2 separate regions of the Homo sapiens genome follow, and region 2 is linked to region 1. Evidence: fine-mapped expression QTL. Tissue or cell type: monocytes after LPS. Region 1 holds a variant in brackets; the other region holds the start of a gene. All regions are shown on one strand. Distances are from middle to middle.

The links. PIP is the estimated chance that this variant, and not a neighbour inherited with it, causes the effect.
Region 2: it holds the start of ADAMTS14, and the variant in region 1 is fine-mapped to the expression of ADAMTS14 in monocytes after LPS (Quach 2016, PIP 0.95).

Annotation. Positions count from the first base shown.
Region 1 is chr10:70,740,553-70,748,656 of GRCh38, forward strand. It overlaps ADAMTS14 (ADAM metallopeptidase with thrombospondin type 1 motif 14), which reads left to right. Exons shown (of 22, transcript NM_080722.4): 12 at 435-610; 13 at 2,996-3,129; 14 at 3,514-3,637; 15 at 4,674-4,754. Among named protein-coding and RNA genes, the nearest start is that of TBATA, 41 kb to the right of the region's middle. RefSeq lists enhancers at 1,981-2,275, 2,515-3,318, 4,850-5,019. The variant C/T (reference allele first, on the strand shown) is at 3,234.
Region 2 is chr10:70,668,577-70,676,675 of GRCh38, forward strand. It overlaps ADAMTS14 (ADAM metallopeptidase with thrombospondin type 1 motif 14), which reads left to right and starts at 3,930. Exons shown (of 22, transcript NM_080722.4): 1 at 3,930-4,308; 2 at 5,980-6,419. The coding sequence starts at 4,227. RefSeq lists a silencer at 2,517-2,811.

The DNA.
Region 1 (8,104 bases):
TTTATGATGATATTAAGTGGAAGTTGATGCAAATGGGAGTGGCTGAGTCGTTTATGGGGGCCTGCTCTATGCCAGGGCCTGCAAAACAGTTGAAGGCACCCACAAAGATGAGTAAGATGGATTTCTCTTCCAGTCCAGCTGGAGAGGGTTAGTCAGTCCCTGTGTCAGTCTGTACATCTGTCCGTCACACTCACCGTGGAATAGGTGGTGTATGTCTGAAGGGTAAAGCAGTCAGGGAGGAAGAAGGATCTGGATAGCTCTTCAGCTGAGCTCCACAGCCCCCACCCTGGGAGCCATTCTCTGGTTTATGTCAGTGGAGGCCCTTGTCATGCTATTATGAATGGCTGAGCTGCTCCTGGTGGCTGTGTGGGAAACCTGGCCCTCCCCAGCCTTCCCAGCCAGCAAGGTCATCCATTTCTCTGTGTCTGTCCCAGCCCAGCCTATGGAGGCCGCCTGTGCTTAGGGCCCATGTTCGAGTACCAGGTCTGCAACAGCGAGGAGTGCCCTGGGACCTACGAGGACTTCCGGGCCCAGCAGTGTGCCAAGCGCAACTCCTACTATGTGCACCAGAATGCCAAGCACAGCTGGGTGCCCTACGAGCCTGACGATGGTGAGTGGGCCCCACCCCCCTCCCACTCCATGTCCTTAGGCATCTGCGGGGGCTGTGTGTGCCCAGGCAGGGCCTCCTACCCCTACATACACCAGTGAAGGTGGAGGGACAGTGGGGGTGCCAAAAGGGACACTGAAGTCAGCGGGCTCACCATATACCCTTTTGTAGGCCTGTTCTTGGTATACTTCTGGGGTCATCATCCCCATCAAGGCCATCCCTGATTTGTGTACTTATGATGACAGTTTTCTGGCAGATGCAAGGAAAGTGTCTTGAGGAAGGGACACTTCACACACAGGTGTTGCCAAGGCCGGCAGCAGTGTTGGCTGTTAGGGTTGCCTGCCTTTCGTCTTCTGTCCCTACCTGCAGGGAGAAGAATTATATAGGTGCAGGCGCCCTTCCCGTTGCATGACCAGTGTCCTGAGGAGCTCAGTCCTATTACACGCTGTGTTTTTAGGTTTTACTGATTGGGTTGTGGTTTCAGCAGAGTCGATGAGATGATTTTGGAAGGCACGCAGATAGGATCTGGTGGGATCTTCATAACGACTCTCTAGGCTGCCCTGGGACATACACAGGACTTCTAGACTCCTGTAAAGAGTCTGAATTTGGGGACCATAGTGGTGCCAGTTCCCATCTATTTTTGAGTGTTTCCAGTGATGGCTCCATAGCGGCAGAGCATCCAGTGAAGGGTTGGGATTCGTGGCAAGTCAGAGCCTCGGCTGGAAGAGCCCTCAATGATCCTCTGATTCCAGCTTTCCCCTGCCAGCCTCTCCATGGGTCCTCCATGGACAGATGCTCATTCTCCATCACACAACTCTTGGCCCAGACAGCTCCCATCAGGACGGGCTTTCCTCCCTGGAGCCTGGGCTCCACCCCAGAACTGTCAGCTCTTCAGCTCTGGTCTAGAATGACAGACTCTTCAGGTTGGAAGGGACCTCAGAGGCCTGTCATTGCCAGATTCTTCCAGAGCATCCTTGCAGGGGGTGTCTTCTCTCTGCTTGGATTCCTCCTACTCTGGGGAGCTCACCACTCCCTTCGCACTGTTGCTGCCCAGAGAGCTTCCGTTGCTGCCCAGAGAGCTGCCTGCCTGGGTCAGGATCCTGCCTGTCCTGGGTTGGAGCTCCCCCAGACCCAGGTCCCTACAGGAATCTGGTTCCTGTGGATGAAATCCAAGGTGGTCTTGGAGGTTGTGGCTTCCGTTGCTGCCTAGAGAGCTGCCTGCCTGGGTCAGGATCCTGCCTGTCCTGGGTTGGAGCTCCCCCAGACCCAGGTCCCTACAGGAATCTGGTTCCTGTGGATGAAATCCAAGGTGGTCTTGGAGGTTGTGGCTCCAGACTTGAGTCCTTCATGCTGGAGACAAGGAGTTACCAGCTGTGCTGGAGCCCAGGGACCAGAGCAGAGCCCAAGAGTTTCCTTAGTAATTGGCTGAGGGAATCTTGGTTTGAAAGCCTTCCAGATCCATTCAGAAACCAAACCAGCAGCCACAGCGTTGGGGAGAGGAGGGGCTGGGAGGCCCGTGGGGCAGCTGGACTTTGGGTTTTTCCCAGGACTGTTAGACGAATTCCAGGAAGTTAGCTAAGCCCCCAACTTCCTTTTTTCTAAGAAGCACAGTAAGTGTTTATATATGCTCTGGAACCTCCTTTTTAGGATATCTATAGCCCACATAAAGAAGGAAACATTTAATTGTTAGGACCAGAAAGGACTCTCTTTCTCCCTGACTGTTGCTCCATTTTGCAAACCCAGATACAGACCACTTTTCTGCCTTTTTTTCACGCAGCCTTCTAATGTTTACAAACATGTTAAGACGCATGTCATACATGTGCACAGTGAAGTTTTGTAGGGGTCAGAGCAGGACTCAGGCAAGACTGCTAAGGTTAGAATCCAGGCTGAACCACTTATCGTGTGGTTGTGTGGACTTGAGCAAGTTCCTTAACCTCTCTGGTCCTCAATTTCCTCCTCTGTAATGCTAGCACCTACCTCATTGAGGTGTTGAGAGGGTTAAATGAGTTAATTCATGAAAAGCCATTAAAGCTGTATTTTAAGGGCATGTGAAGGTTTTAGAAATATCTAGTACATAGTAAGCATTCACTAAGCATTGGCTTATTATTACTTTATCACTTGATTTTTCTCAATAAGCCGATGTGGCATTTTACTGATTAGGGATAATAAAAATAGGGAACAAAGGCTGGGAGAGGTCAGAGCATTTACCCAAGGTCACATGGCTAATAAGTGACACAGCAGGGATTTTCAGCCCCCGTGCCACACCCAGTGCTCCCCCAACTGTCCAGAGCTGGCCCCGGAGCTTTCTGGCTGGACCACATACTGATCTGTCCTGGGCCACTTTCTCTGAGCCCAGCTGGGGACTCAGCATAGTCCCTCTCCCTACAGACGCCCAGAAGTGTGAGCTGATCTGCCAGTCGGCGGACACGGGGGACGTGGTGTTCATGAACCAGGTGGTTCACGATGGGACACGCTGCAGCTACCGGGACCCATACAGCGTCTGTGCGCGTGGCGAGTGTGTGGTGGGTGCACCCCCAGCCACCCCGACTACCGGCACAGGGAGACTGGAGGGCTGCACTGTAGCCCCTCCTGCCTGGGAAGATGAGCATTGCCTCACCGGCCCACT[C/T]GCAACACCCTGTTGGTCCTCAGCATAGCCCTGGGGTGCTGGAAGGGGCTAATTATTGCTCAGCCCCATTGGAGGGGAGAGGAGATGGCAAGAATCCTCATCACGCCGGGTGTAAGACCTCACCCAGGTCCCACGGTGAATTCGTGCCAGAATCCTGTCCAGGGACATCTCCCAGGCCAGAGGTCTTCTCCTGACCAGGGCCTGGGGATGGGAATGGGAGCCCCGGGGTGGCGGTGGGGGCAGGGGAGCCTCCTCCCACTGACCTCACCTCTGGCCTCAGCCTGTCGGCTGTGACAAGGAGGTGGGGTCCATGAAGGCGGATGACAAGTGTGGAGTCTGCGGGGGTGACAACTCCCACTGCAGGACTGTGAAGGGGACGCTGGGCAAGGCCTCCAAGCAGGCAGGTGAGCCGGGCTGGGGCTGGGGGGATGACGAGGGCTGACTGGAGTTCTTGCCGTCCCTCAGGGGGCCCTCCCTCCTTGAACTGTGCCACAGTCTGGGGTGGGGAGAAGGGGCCCTGGGGCCCATCTCCAGGCCTTCCTGGGCTGCCCAGGCTGGTGAGCCAGGTGCTGCAGCCAGTCACCTCACCTTTCAGGCAAGCTCCTCCCTGAGTTTGGGGCCCAGGAGCTCCAAGAGACATTTTCCCGCTAGGTAAAGTTTTGTGATGGGAGCTCGGCCATCCCTTGGACCTTGGGACTATTGGTGGGTGGGAGGCATCAGACAGATCTAAAGGTGTAGCCAAGACTGGACTGATAATTTTCTTTTCCTCTCTCCTTCCTTATTTTTTTTTAAACCTGTGGCACTTTCTGCTTTGAATTCCTGGTATCTTTGAGTTCCTTGACTTTCCTCTCTACCTCCAATCTGACCAGACTTGCTGTGGAAAAGAACCAGATATCAGTCCTTCACACTTTAGTATAAATGGGGCCTATTTTCCCTTGGGAGATGTTACACTTTGTCTCACCTTTGATTGTTGGGGACAAGGTTGGTGGCTCTGAGAAAGTCCAGGCCTTGGGTCGGGAGGGCCAGGGCGGCTCAGGACAGTCATGTGGAGTCTTCATGGCCTTTATCATTTAAATCCCATCAGTAGCAAGTAGCTTAAGGTGTGAGAAGAAGCAGGGAGAGAGAGTCAGAGGAGCAAAAAGGGACGGGGGGAAGGGCAGAAGTGAGACGGAGAGGAAGAGGGTCAGGAAAGAGGGAAGTAATAGCAGCTCTCACACACACGGAGGCCCTTAGAGTTTACAGGACATGTCTCATTCGATCCTCCCAGCACCCTCATGGAGAAGGTCTCATCCTCAGTTTACAAATGAGGATACAGAGATTCAGAGAGGTTCTGTGATCAAATGAGATGTTCCTGGGTGCCCAGTGAGGGAGTGGGGGACGCTGGGCAGTGGGACCACCAGCTTAGGATGCTCACGACTTCTGGATCCCTGTGTGTGGCAGGAGCTCTCAAGCTGGTGCAGATCCCAGCAGGTGCCAGGCACATCCAGATTGAGGCACTGGAGAAGTCCCCCCACCGCATTGGTGAGTGCTGGGGTGCTGGGAGGGGACAGCAGGGCCCCAGGCCCTGCCCTCTGACTTGGGGGAGCTGGGAGACCAGAGGACAAGATTCTAGTACAAGTGGAATTGTACTAACTGGAGTAATGGGCAGAGACCCCCTTTTCATTTTATTTTAAATTTATGCTGCATGGGTAACCCATTCCATGGTTTACATTTCAGAAGGTCTCAAAGGGGACCTAGTAAAGAGTCCCCTTTCTACCCCTGTACCCTGGGGGCAGTTTTCTTCCCTAAGGGCAACTACTGTTAATAATTTCTTGTGCACATAGATGGCTGTTAAAGGAAAGCCATGTTCACAGAGTGTATCAGTCAGCTTTTGCTGCCTAACACACCACTCCAAAACTTAGTGGCTTCAAACAAGAATAATTCTTAGCTCACGGTCCTATGGGTCATCAGTTTGGGCTGGGCTCTGTGGGGTGGTTCTTCTACTTGTCTTCTTGGACCAAGTCATGCAGATGCCCTCAGCTGGTAGGTCTCTGGGAGCTGGTTGGTCTAGGATGGCCTCGCTCACATGTCTGGTGGTTGGTACTGGCTGTCAGCTGGGGTCATGGAGGTGGCAGGGCTGTGTCCTCAACAGGCTAACCCAGTGTTATTCACATTATATCTGTCACATAGTCCTCAGGAATGGCTTGTGTCATGTTTTCTAGCGTCCCATTAGTCCAAATCACATGGACAAGCCCAGATTTAAGGGGTAGAAACATAGACTAGCTCTTGATGGTAGAAGTGGTGAAGTTACTGTGCAAAGCAGCATGCATAGAGGAATAGGAGGAATGTAGAGGCATTCTGCAGTCTACCACACAGGCCCTTACATTATTCTCATTATAATCATACTTAAACACCAAGCCACTAAATGAGGTGACACCCTTGTGCTTGTAACAGTTATCTAACTATGAAGCTAGGCTCGATTAAAAATGAGAATACCACAATAAGTTAATAAATTTAAATTAAGGCCATTAATATAATATGAGTGATGTTTTGTTTCGTTTTTGCTGAAACTAAATTGGCTGTCAAAAAATGGACATGTCCAGAGAGGCAAATCCACAGACAGAGAGAGAATAGATCCGTGGCTGCCAGGGGCTGGGGAAGGAAAGAGGCATGACGGCTAATGGGTATCAGGTTTCTTTTTGGGGCGATGAAAATGTTCTGGAATTAGACAGTGGCAATGGCTGAATCTACTTAAAAATCAGGGCAGGCGCAGCGGCTCACGCCTGTAATCCCAACACTTTGGGAGGCCAAGGTGGGTGGATCGCTTGAGCTCAGAAGTTTGAGATCAGCCTGGGGAACATGGTGAAATCCCATCTCTACAAAAATAAAAAATAAACAATCAGCTAGGCGTGGTGGTGCATGCCTGTAGTCCTAAGCTAGTTGGGGGACTGAGGCAGGAGCGTCTCAAAAAAAATTTTTTTTTCACTGAATTGTACACCTTATTCGAGTGAGTTGTATGGCATGTGAATTATATCTCGGTTCAAACCCTGTGAGCCTGGTTCAGAGCAGGGTCCCGGTGGCAAGTGGGCAGAAGGCTGCTTCTCCCACACTGGGCAGTGGTGTCTGTGTTCAGACCCCTTTGCAGAGGACGTGCAGGCCACAATGTCCCCTTGAAATGTCACAGAGGCCCCTCTTACCTATTACGTCTGCCAAGTCACACTGCTTGGTGCCAATTTCATCATAAATGGAAAAACAAAACACATATCTCTTGGCAGGCTCACATCACACACAAATGCTGCCATTCATATTTTTAGATTATCATCAAAATAGCAATTTGTAAATACCTTCAAAGTTTCCTGGATAACTTGCATTTCCTGGAGAATGCATCTGCATTGGCACCTCCCCTTAACACAGCTCCAGTGGGCTCCTAAACTTCTATTCTTGAAGGCATCTGAAAGGGCATTGTCCCATCAGGCCATAGGCACAAGGGGAAACTGAAACCCAAAGTGGATTGGGGGCCTCTGTATGCCCTGATTCATCCATGAGGAGTATGGGCAGAGCCAGTCTGGGCCCAGGTCTCCTGCCTCTCAGCCCTGTTCCCTTGCCAGCCATGCCACTCTACCACAGCGAGCCCAGGTTAGAGGACATTGGTTCAGGCAAGTCCTGCCTGCTGTGCCTGCCTGGCTGTGGGGAATGTGCTGGAATTAGGGGCCGGGGGAGGGAAGGGGCAAGGAGAGAAGGGACATCTATTCCAAGAAGAGGTGGAGCTCACGGACACTGCATCCCCAGGGGATGATTTCAGAACATTAGCAGCCCCTTCCACCCTCTGCTGTCTCCAGAAATCTAGTTCTTCGATCCCCAGGGAAGAACTAGTCTTCTGTGGAGGTCATGGCAGAGGCTGCTAGCATCCGGGGCAGGCCGAGTGCGGGCTTGCTTGCCTGTTTGTCGGGTGAGTTCCCTGAAAGGTTAGAGTTTTCCGGGGAGCCTGGTGGGGAGAGCGAAGCAGTGGCGGCCCAGGAGCTGAACTCTGAAGTTGGCACAGGTTGTGTGATTATACAGGTGTGAGGTGCACAGTGGCCTTCAGTGAAAACGTGTGAATATGTGTGTGTGAGTGTGTGCATGCACGTGCATGCACGTGTAGGGGTGTGTGTACCCAACAGGATATGTAGAGGCCCAGGACAGGTGGCAGCCCTGGCGATGAAGGGAGAGGCTCTGTCCATTGTCATTAGACTCTCCTGGAATTGGGGACATGGGGTCTTTGAAAGGAAGTGTAGGGAAGAGAAGGAGAACTCATGCTGTTAATATCTCCCATGCGCTGGGCCATGAGCTGCCACTTTTCATGCGTATGTTTAGTAAGCCTCATGGCCATCTATGAATATTGTTTTCCCGCTTTGCAGTTAAAGGAAACTGAGGCTCAGAGAGAGGTTAGATACAGAACAGGTCAGTGGTGGAGCCTGGATTCGGGACTGGGTCTGGACAGTGGAGAGTTTATGGTGGTCCACCCCCAACGGTCTGGAATGAGGGGTGCATAATCAGGGCTCTGCTACAGTGAGGTGCAGGCACAGTCAAAGGCAATGGGAGAACTGGAGGCTGCACCTGGCCTGAGGAGCTGCCCAGCCTTAGCTTAGACAGTCTGGAGCTGCTGGGGACTGAGAGCGATCAGGGAACCTGAGGGAGAGGCCTGGGTGGGCAGGAGGCGAGGGGCATCTCTCCAGCAGCCTCCCAGGAAGGGGCGAGGCTCTTCTTTTTCCACCCCTCTTCCCCACCCTCACCCTGCCCCTACATTGCTCCTGTCTCTCTGGGTGCCTGGGCTCTGGCCCAGCTCCAACTGTTGCCCACTGTGTGTCCAGGACACTGTGTGTCTAGGAGTCTCCAATTCCCCATCTGTATTA
Region 2 (8,099 bases), 72 kb before region 1:
CTCTGTGACTCACACCCTATTCATACACTCCCTCCCTTTTTGAAAATCACTAATAAAAACTTGCTGGTTTTGCGGCTTGTGGGGCATCATGGAACCTGCTGACAGTTGATTCGTGAGCCAAGCTCCCACTTCTCAATTCCATGGCCATTAAATAAAGCCTGCACTGCTTGATGCTCACTCTCAGTTTTGCGTACTGACTTTGTGACACCAAACGGAGAATAATACCTCATTTTTTTGAGAGGACCAGCTTTGTCCGTAACAGAGGCAGGAAGGTGGGCACAGGGAGTCTGATCTTTGTTCCAAGAGGAACAGAGCCTTTGGAGGTTTAATAGCAGAGAGGGCCATGTGATGTCTCAAACATCTCTGGGTGTAGTTGGAGGAGAGATTCCGGGGCCCGGAGAAGAGTGGGGTTATCTGTTAGGACAAACCTACAGCAGTGTCCACAGAGGGCTGCTGGTGGCCTGCTGGGAGATGGGGTTGCATTTGAAATGGAAAGAAGTTACTGTATTTGGAATATCCTTTGGAGTCAACTCCACAGGACTTGGAGGGGATTGATGTGGTGGGTGAGAGAGGTGACTAGGGTGGTCCAGCTGTCTGACTTCCTAACTGGCTATCCAGGGTGGATGGTGATGGCTTTCAGTGAGCTAGGGTGGAACTCCTCTTCTCCAGAGCATTTCAGAGCCCTACTGGTCACTTGTCACACCATGGGTTGGAAGACAAGGACCCTCTTCCTGTGTTTCAGAGTACTCATCTCCTCCAGGTGTGGATAAAACAGGTAAACACTTAGCACAGCAGCTGGTTCTCAACAAATGATAGCTGCCTGCTGGACCCCCTGCCTCTGGGTCACTCTCGTGGAGCTGTTGGCCTCTTGCTGCAGAGACCTATCACAAGCTGACACTCTTACTTCCTTGTGGGGGCATCTGGGACTCCTGCTGGGGTGGGGATATTTTGTCTCAACCTTGAACCTCCTCATCTTTATCTTGGAAGATGGAGCAAGAGGGGAAGAGAGCTGGCGCTCAGCAGAGGTTGTGCTTTTCTGAAGCCAGGGGAACTGGCCCTCCTCTAAACTAGCTGTGTGACCAGAGGCAAGTCTGCTTTCCTCTCCAGACCTCAGTTTACCTAACTATAAAATGGAGTGGGGCACAGGACTGGAGATTGCCTCTCAACCCCTCTATCTCCAAATCTCTGCATTTTTGTTTATGCTCAAAGGAACGTGGGTGGAGGCTGGGACCACCTTGCTCCTCAGGGTCAAATCCTGGGCCGTTGCCCAAGCCCCAGCCCACTCATTACATCTGTTTCAAACTCTTGCCACAGTCACCTTTTGGGGATAGACACCTCCACTTTGTCTTTCTGGCCTACCTGTCACAGGAGCCTTCCATGGGCTCTAGCTAGTCCAGCCTTTTCTCCTCCTGCCTGGGAGGCTCATGGCAGGCCGCCCCCTCCTGCCCATGCTCGTGCCATTCCCAACCAGGAACACTGCTTCCTCTCTGTCTCCCCTGTGGAAGCCTCAGCTTGGATCCACGGCAGTGAAATCTCCCTCTAAGCTTCTCCTTCCCAGAGTCCCCAGAGTCCCTGGGGTCCCCCCTGGCGACCTTGCATGTTCATTTAGAGCACATTTCTCTACCCTTTCCTTACCTGGTTTTCAGACTTTCTCTTGCCCATGTCAGGTTTCTCAATTGCTTGCTGGCTTCATGCAGCCAACACGGACTTTCTGCATCCCTCTCCCCCAGGGCCTTAGACTGAAACTGTTGTGTTGGGTGTTGGGAGAAACACCTAAGACATTCTCTCCTGCGCGAAGACTCAAGGAAGACACTGGGAAACCCAGACCTTGACTTCCTAGGAGGGTCCCCAGCTTACACCTGGGGATTTCTTCCTTTGGCCCCATTCACCTCCAAATCTGGGGCCACCTTGCCCTCTCCCCACCTTCTGGCCCAGACTCTGAGCTAGGCCCCCATGTCCCCTTTTCCTAACAAAGCCTTCCTCCATGGAAGAGAGCTTGGACACACAATACTTGCCGATAAAAGCAATCATTGTAGCCCCAGGGAAGGGGGCGGGGGTAAAGAAACGGGGAGAGGTTTTGCTCTCTGCTTGCCAAGGCTGGCTCCAGGGAAGGCCGCAGCCCACTCCAGCGAAGCAGGCTGCTGGGGCCCCAGCTGTGACCTGCTCCTCTTGACTTGCTTTCCTTGAGGCAGGAACAAGGGGGTGGAATGGAGCTGGGGCCCCTGAGTTTTCTAGGGGAGTCTTTCTGAGATGGCCCCACAGCAGAAAAGGGGCAATCCTTACGCCATGACTTTTTCCTTCTGTCCCGCAGGGTTCCCACTCTGCAGCTTGGAAAACTGAGACCCTGAGAAGGGAAGCCATTTTATCCAGAGATCATTTGGTGGGCTTGGGTTTGCAGAGGGCCAGAGCTGTGAAGCTCCAGCCTGGTCATCTCCCAGCCTTCTCTCTCTCTCTCTCTTTCTCTCTCTCTCTCTTTCTCTCTCTCTCTTTCCTATCTCTCTCTCTCTTTCCTCTCTCTCTCTCTCTCTCTCTCACACACACACACACACACACACACACACACACACACACCCTCTAACTTTCTTGCTCTGTCATCCCTCACACACAGAATCCTGTCTGGACCTTGACTTTGCACATCATTTTTTTTTTTTTTTGAGACAGGGTATTGCTCTGTCACCCAGGCTGGGTACAGTGGTGTGAGCTGAAGCTCAGCTCACTGCAGCTTCAGCCTCTCAGGCTAAAGCAACCCTTCCGCCTCAGCCTCCCAAAGTGTTGGGACTATAGGCGTGAGCCACTGCACGCAGCCAACACACATCTTAAAAGACCAGAAAGAGGAGAAAGAGGAACTCTATTCTTCCTGAATTTAATATAGATCAATTTGGTTGTGGCATTTCCAAATAACTGGATGCTCTGATGTAGCTTGGAATGCTTGGAATATAATATACTTTAGCTTTCTGAACCTGCTTCTTAAATGCACTGGTCCTCCAAAACCTTGGCATCATTTCCAAGATTCTTTATTCCATGGTTATTACAAAAAAATCTCCTTTCCACAACTCCCACCCCTGGATTGCTTGAAATATAGTTTATTTGCAAGTTATTAGTTACATATTTACAGAGTAAAGCAAGAGCATGGATCTTCTGTTGGGTTGTTTGTACTGACTCCTGACCTGGTCTCAACACCATTGCAAGACTAGCATCAAGTGCTCATCTCTCAGACTCTTGGTTCTTTCCACCTTGGGATGCCACAGTTGCTACTGGTGTCAGGGATGGAAGTGGAGGGCAGTTATCACTTATTGAGCATCTATTATGTGCTGTAGTTAACACCCATTTCACAGATAAGACAACTGAGGCTCAGAGCTAGGATTTCAATCAGGGCTGTCTGACTCTGAAGCCAGGGCTCTCTCCTCACCGGCTCAGCCCTGCTCTTGGCTAGGACACAGGTCAGTCGTGCACCCTGGGCTGGAGTCTGGAAAATGGGTAGATCCAAGGGGTCGATGGTTAGTGAGGGCATCAAGACCATAGTGAAAGAAAGAGGGAGTCTCCCTCTACCGGGAGGTTCACTGTCCACCACACTCCCAAATGCAGCCGGACACCCCTTGGGCTCCTGGCTCTGGAACAGAAACAGAGAGCAGGCCCTGCGGCCAAGAAAGGGGGCGGAGCAGCCATAGAAAGCGGCTTTGGGCCACCACTCCGGGGATCCCAGGCGTCTGAGGGGACAATCGGTCCGTGCGCCAGGAACCCCTGCTCTGTCTCCGCGTGGCACTTCCGATCCCCGGCCGCAGGCAGCTGCACTCCCCAGCCGCGCGCCCCGCCCCCGGGCGCCCGGCGCCCCAGCTCCGACCCGCGCCCGGCCCCGCCCCGCCCAGTGTGCCCACCCCCGGCCCGTCCCGCCGCCCCGTCGCCCGGCTCCCGCGGAGTCCCGGAGCGTCACTGCGCGGGCGGGCTGACCGACCAGCCGGCAGTTGGCACCGGGTGCGCTGGCGCGTCAGTGGCCCCGCTCTCCAGCCGGCAGCCTCGCGCGCCCGGAGCCAGCGGTCCAGGCGGCGGCGCCGCGCAGGGGACCCGGAGCAGGCGGGAGGGAAGCAGCTAGGCGGGGAGGCGGCTGAGGCGGCAGCGGCGGCAGCCAGCCGGTGCTCCGACAGCCCGGGGCGCACCCTAGCCTCGCCGCCCTCAGCCTGGGACTTGGGGATCGGGCGCTTGCCCAGCCCGCGTCCCAGCGCGGCCACATGGCTCCACTCCGCGCGCTGCTGTCCTACCTGCTGCCTTTGCACTGTGCGCTCTGCGCCGCCGCGGGCAGCCGGACCCCAGGTGCGTGCGGGTTGGGCGCGCGGGGGCCCGTGGGGTCCGGGGTGCACGCGGTCAGGGTGGCCCAAGGTTGCCCCAGCCACCCGGGCAGGGTTCCCGCGGGTGGGAGGCAGTATGCACACTCTGGGCTGATTTGCTGTCTTTTCTTCCACTGTGCCACGGCACTGTCCCGTGATTTCTCTCCCTTTCTGGTACTAGAAGTAGACAGAGACCCCAGGAGAGAATTTGGGAGCATCGAGTCTCTTCTCGGGAGCAGCGCATCTGTCTCTTTGTCTCTCTGTGTTTCTTCTTTCCCCTCTTCCCCAATCTGTTTCTCTGTCCTGTGTGTCTTTCTCTTTCAATGTCTTTTCTGTCTCCAACTTGTGTGAGCATGGGTGCAAGGGGTGTGTGTGTGTGTGTGTCTGTGTGTGGCTGTTACATACCCAGCATAAGGCTAACAGGTGATTGCCTCCTACAGCAGAGCATGCGGGGCACTCACGCTCCTGCACAGAAACACACATCCTTCCACTGCCCCCAACGTAGCACTGTCAAACGCTGTGGACACAGGTCTCTTGCATACAGACCAGATACACTCCACTCCCGCCCTGCAGCATGGGGTACCCTCCTGGTGGCTCTGAACATGGGGAGGAGTCACCGGTCATTTCCAGGCAGGGTCCCTCCTTGTTTGTGAGCCTTGTTCATGTGCCAGAGTGGGTCCCCTCTTGCAGCAGTCTTAGGGGTCCTCTGCTATAATGGGGATGAAACTAGAGCTGTGGGCATGGGGGATTTTCAGGAAACACCACTTTCTATGTTTCATCAGTGACGTGAACTGGGGAGACGAGAGGTAGAGCTGTGTGGAAATGAAAATTCCTCCCAAACTCGCATTCATGAATCACCAGGCCTGGAAGCCAGGGAGCTGTCATTCCTGCCCAGCCTGGCTGGGCTCAAGGAGAGCTGCGTGAGGATGGGCCTGCTGGCATGTGGCCTGGAGCATGGGGCCATGACCTCACAGTTAATTCAGCCCAAGTGGGCAGGTCACCCCCTGTATATCCTTTTATTTTTGAAGATCTATATTTATCCAGCTTGGGGCTCGGCCATACAGAGATCTCAGCGGCCACTGTCCTCCTGTAAAAAGTTTTCTTTCTAACCTTGGAAAAATAGAGAACCGCTCCCCTCTGCAGCCCCACCTTCTCCTTGACACGTGCCCATGGTCCCCTGGGTTTCTAGGTGTGTTTGTTTTGCCAGCTGCGTTCTTGGAAGTTTGGGGAGGAGGGCACTACCCCAGCCTGGGCTGGTGACTTCAGCACACTGGGGAGTTTGGGCAGATCTGCCCTTCCCTTTATTTGCCCTGTTGGCTTTTGGGGAATTTTAGTCCTTTTCTGGGCAGAGCCCAAGGTCGGAAGTCTTGTTGCTAGTGACCGGGCTCTGTCTGGTATCATTTGCTTTCTTCTGCTAAGTTTAAAAAGGACCTGGGGGCTACAGGGAGTGCCACAAGGTACCCGAACACCCTTCATCCAAGTGTAGGAATCCTGGAGCTCAGGAAGCAATGGATGGAAAATGGGTGAACTCAGGCTAAGGGGCCCACCTAAGGGTGACACTGAGAGTTCCTATCCCTCCCTGCCCGCGTGGGATTTCTGACTTCCCCTTACCTCTGAACCGACTGCATTGAAGTGACTCTTTGTTTACCTCCAACAGAGCTGCACCTCTCTGGAAAGCTCAGTGACTATGGTGTGACAGTGCCCTGCAGCACAGACTTTCGGGGACGCTTCCTCTCCCACGTGGTGTCTGGCCCAGCAGCAGCCTCTGCAGGGAGCATGGTAGTGGACACGCCACCCACACTACCACGACACTCCAGTCACCTCCGGGTGGCTCGCAGCCCTCTGCACCCAGGAGGGACCCTGTGGCCTGGCAGGGTGGGGCGCCACTCCCTCTACTTCAATGTCACTGTTTTCGGGAAGGAACTGCACTTGCGCCTGCGGCCCAATCGGAGGTTGGTAGTGCCAGGATCCTCAGTGGAGTGGCAGGAGGATTTTCGGGAGCTGTTCCGGCAGCCCTTACGGCAGGAGTGTGTGTACACTGGAGGTGTCACTGGAATGCCTGGGGCAGCTGTTGCCATCAGCAACTGTGACGGATTGGTAAGGGATGAGACTTTCATTAAGCTGCATCCTCCCCCTCCCATGCCCTGCTCACATGGTTTTGAGATTGCTATGGGCATGTTTTGCAGTCTGGGCCAAGGCAGGGGTGGTGCTGCCTTCCAGAGGGAGTGCCGCCTGCCCCCGCGGGCCACTAGGTTCATGCGCTGCCAGGTGTGAAGTGGCCAAGTTGGGATGATGTTCACCCCTCGCCTTCCATGGACCCAGCTGGATCACAAGCTGTTTGGCTGGTGTTTCTGAGTGCAGAGAGACACTGGGGTTGGAAGTGTGGCTGAGCCACTGCCTAGCTGTGAGGATTTGGATGAGTTAACCTCTCTGTGGTTCTTTCCCTTATTTATTTTGCACATATTTACTGTTCTAGATGCTGGGGGTACAGTGGTGCCTGAGACAGACGTGGCTTCTGCTCTCCTGGAGCTGACCCGCGAGTGTTAATGATATGGCCTGCCTAACTGGGCAGTGCACTGGGGGCTGTCCCTGCCTGGCTCGTGGCGTGGGCACAGTTAGCGGCTGCTATTATGTCTTGTAACATTGCGACGTCGTGTCCTTCCTCTTCTCCTCCCTGTCTCTCCTCCCAGAGCCAGCCTGCTCTTTCCTGGCTGCTCTGTGTGTCCCTTTCCTAGGACCCCCACTGCTTCCGCAATGCTTCCCAGAGTCTGGGAGCGCCTCTGCTAGTTGGCTCCACATTGCAAACCAGAAAGCCATGGGGTGGGCTGTCTTTCTCGCCCCCACCTGGGGTTGGCTCTCATTCCCCTCGCTGCTCCTCCTCAGTGTGCAGGCCCTTGTGAGCTGGCACAGCAGCCTCAAGGTCCTGTTGGGCAGCTCTTCCCTGCCCCAGAGACATCAGATGTGAGCTGATGGGTCTCAAGAAGGGGCCCGCTTGCTCCTCTGCCCTTCAGCTTTGAGAGCGAGAAAATTTGAGATGGGGAGGGGTTGTGGGTTCCTTCCTCACTGGCAGGGTGGGGAGCATTTGTCACCATTGTCTCATGTGTAGGAGATGTCTTATCTGCTGATTTCGTGGCTGCCTCTGTCTAGGCCAGTGCTTTCCACCTTTTATCATGATGTACCCCTAAATGTTTTAGACATTTCCTCCCAATCATCAGTCTACCCCACGATGAGGTTTTTTTTTTTTTTTAGAGGTGGATTTTCACTATGTTGCCCAGGCTGGAGTGCAGTGGCTATTCACAGGCACAAACACAGGGCACTGCAGCCTCGAACTCCTGGCCTCCAGCCATCCTTCTGCCTCCGCATCCCAGGAGCTGGGGCTATAGGTGCTTGTCACTGTGCCTGGCTTTCCTCATGCAATTTTAATACCACAGATATACTGAATATCTGTTTATACACTGAATATCCATCTGTGTTTTATATATTCAAAGGTGTAATATTTTTGCCTTCCCCAGAATAAATTTTCATCCCATTGAAGGTGGTAGGGCCCTCATGGAGAGGGCTTATCTACATGGTAGTTGGTTCTCATAGTTGAGCATGCACTAGAATCACCTGAGCACCTTGTCAGGTGCGCAGAATCTGCCTCTCAGGGGAGGGACCAGGATCTGATCATTACCAAACTCTGCAGGTGAACTGATTCAAGAGTTCCTGAGAGCGGACTTCGAGAAAGCAGATTGTCAGGGCAGCTGGGGGAGCCTAAGGCCTTGTCAGGTGTCTGGG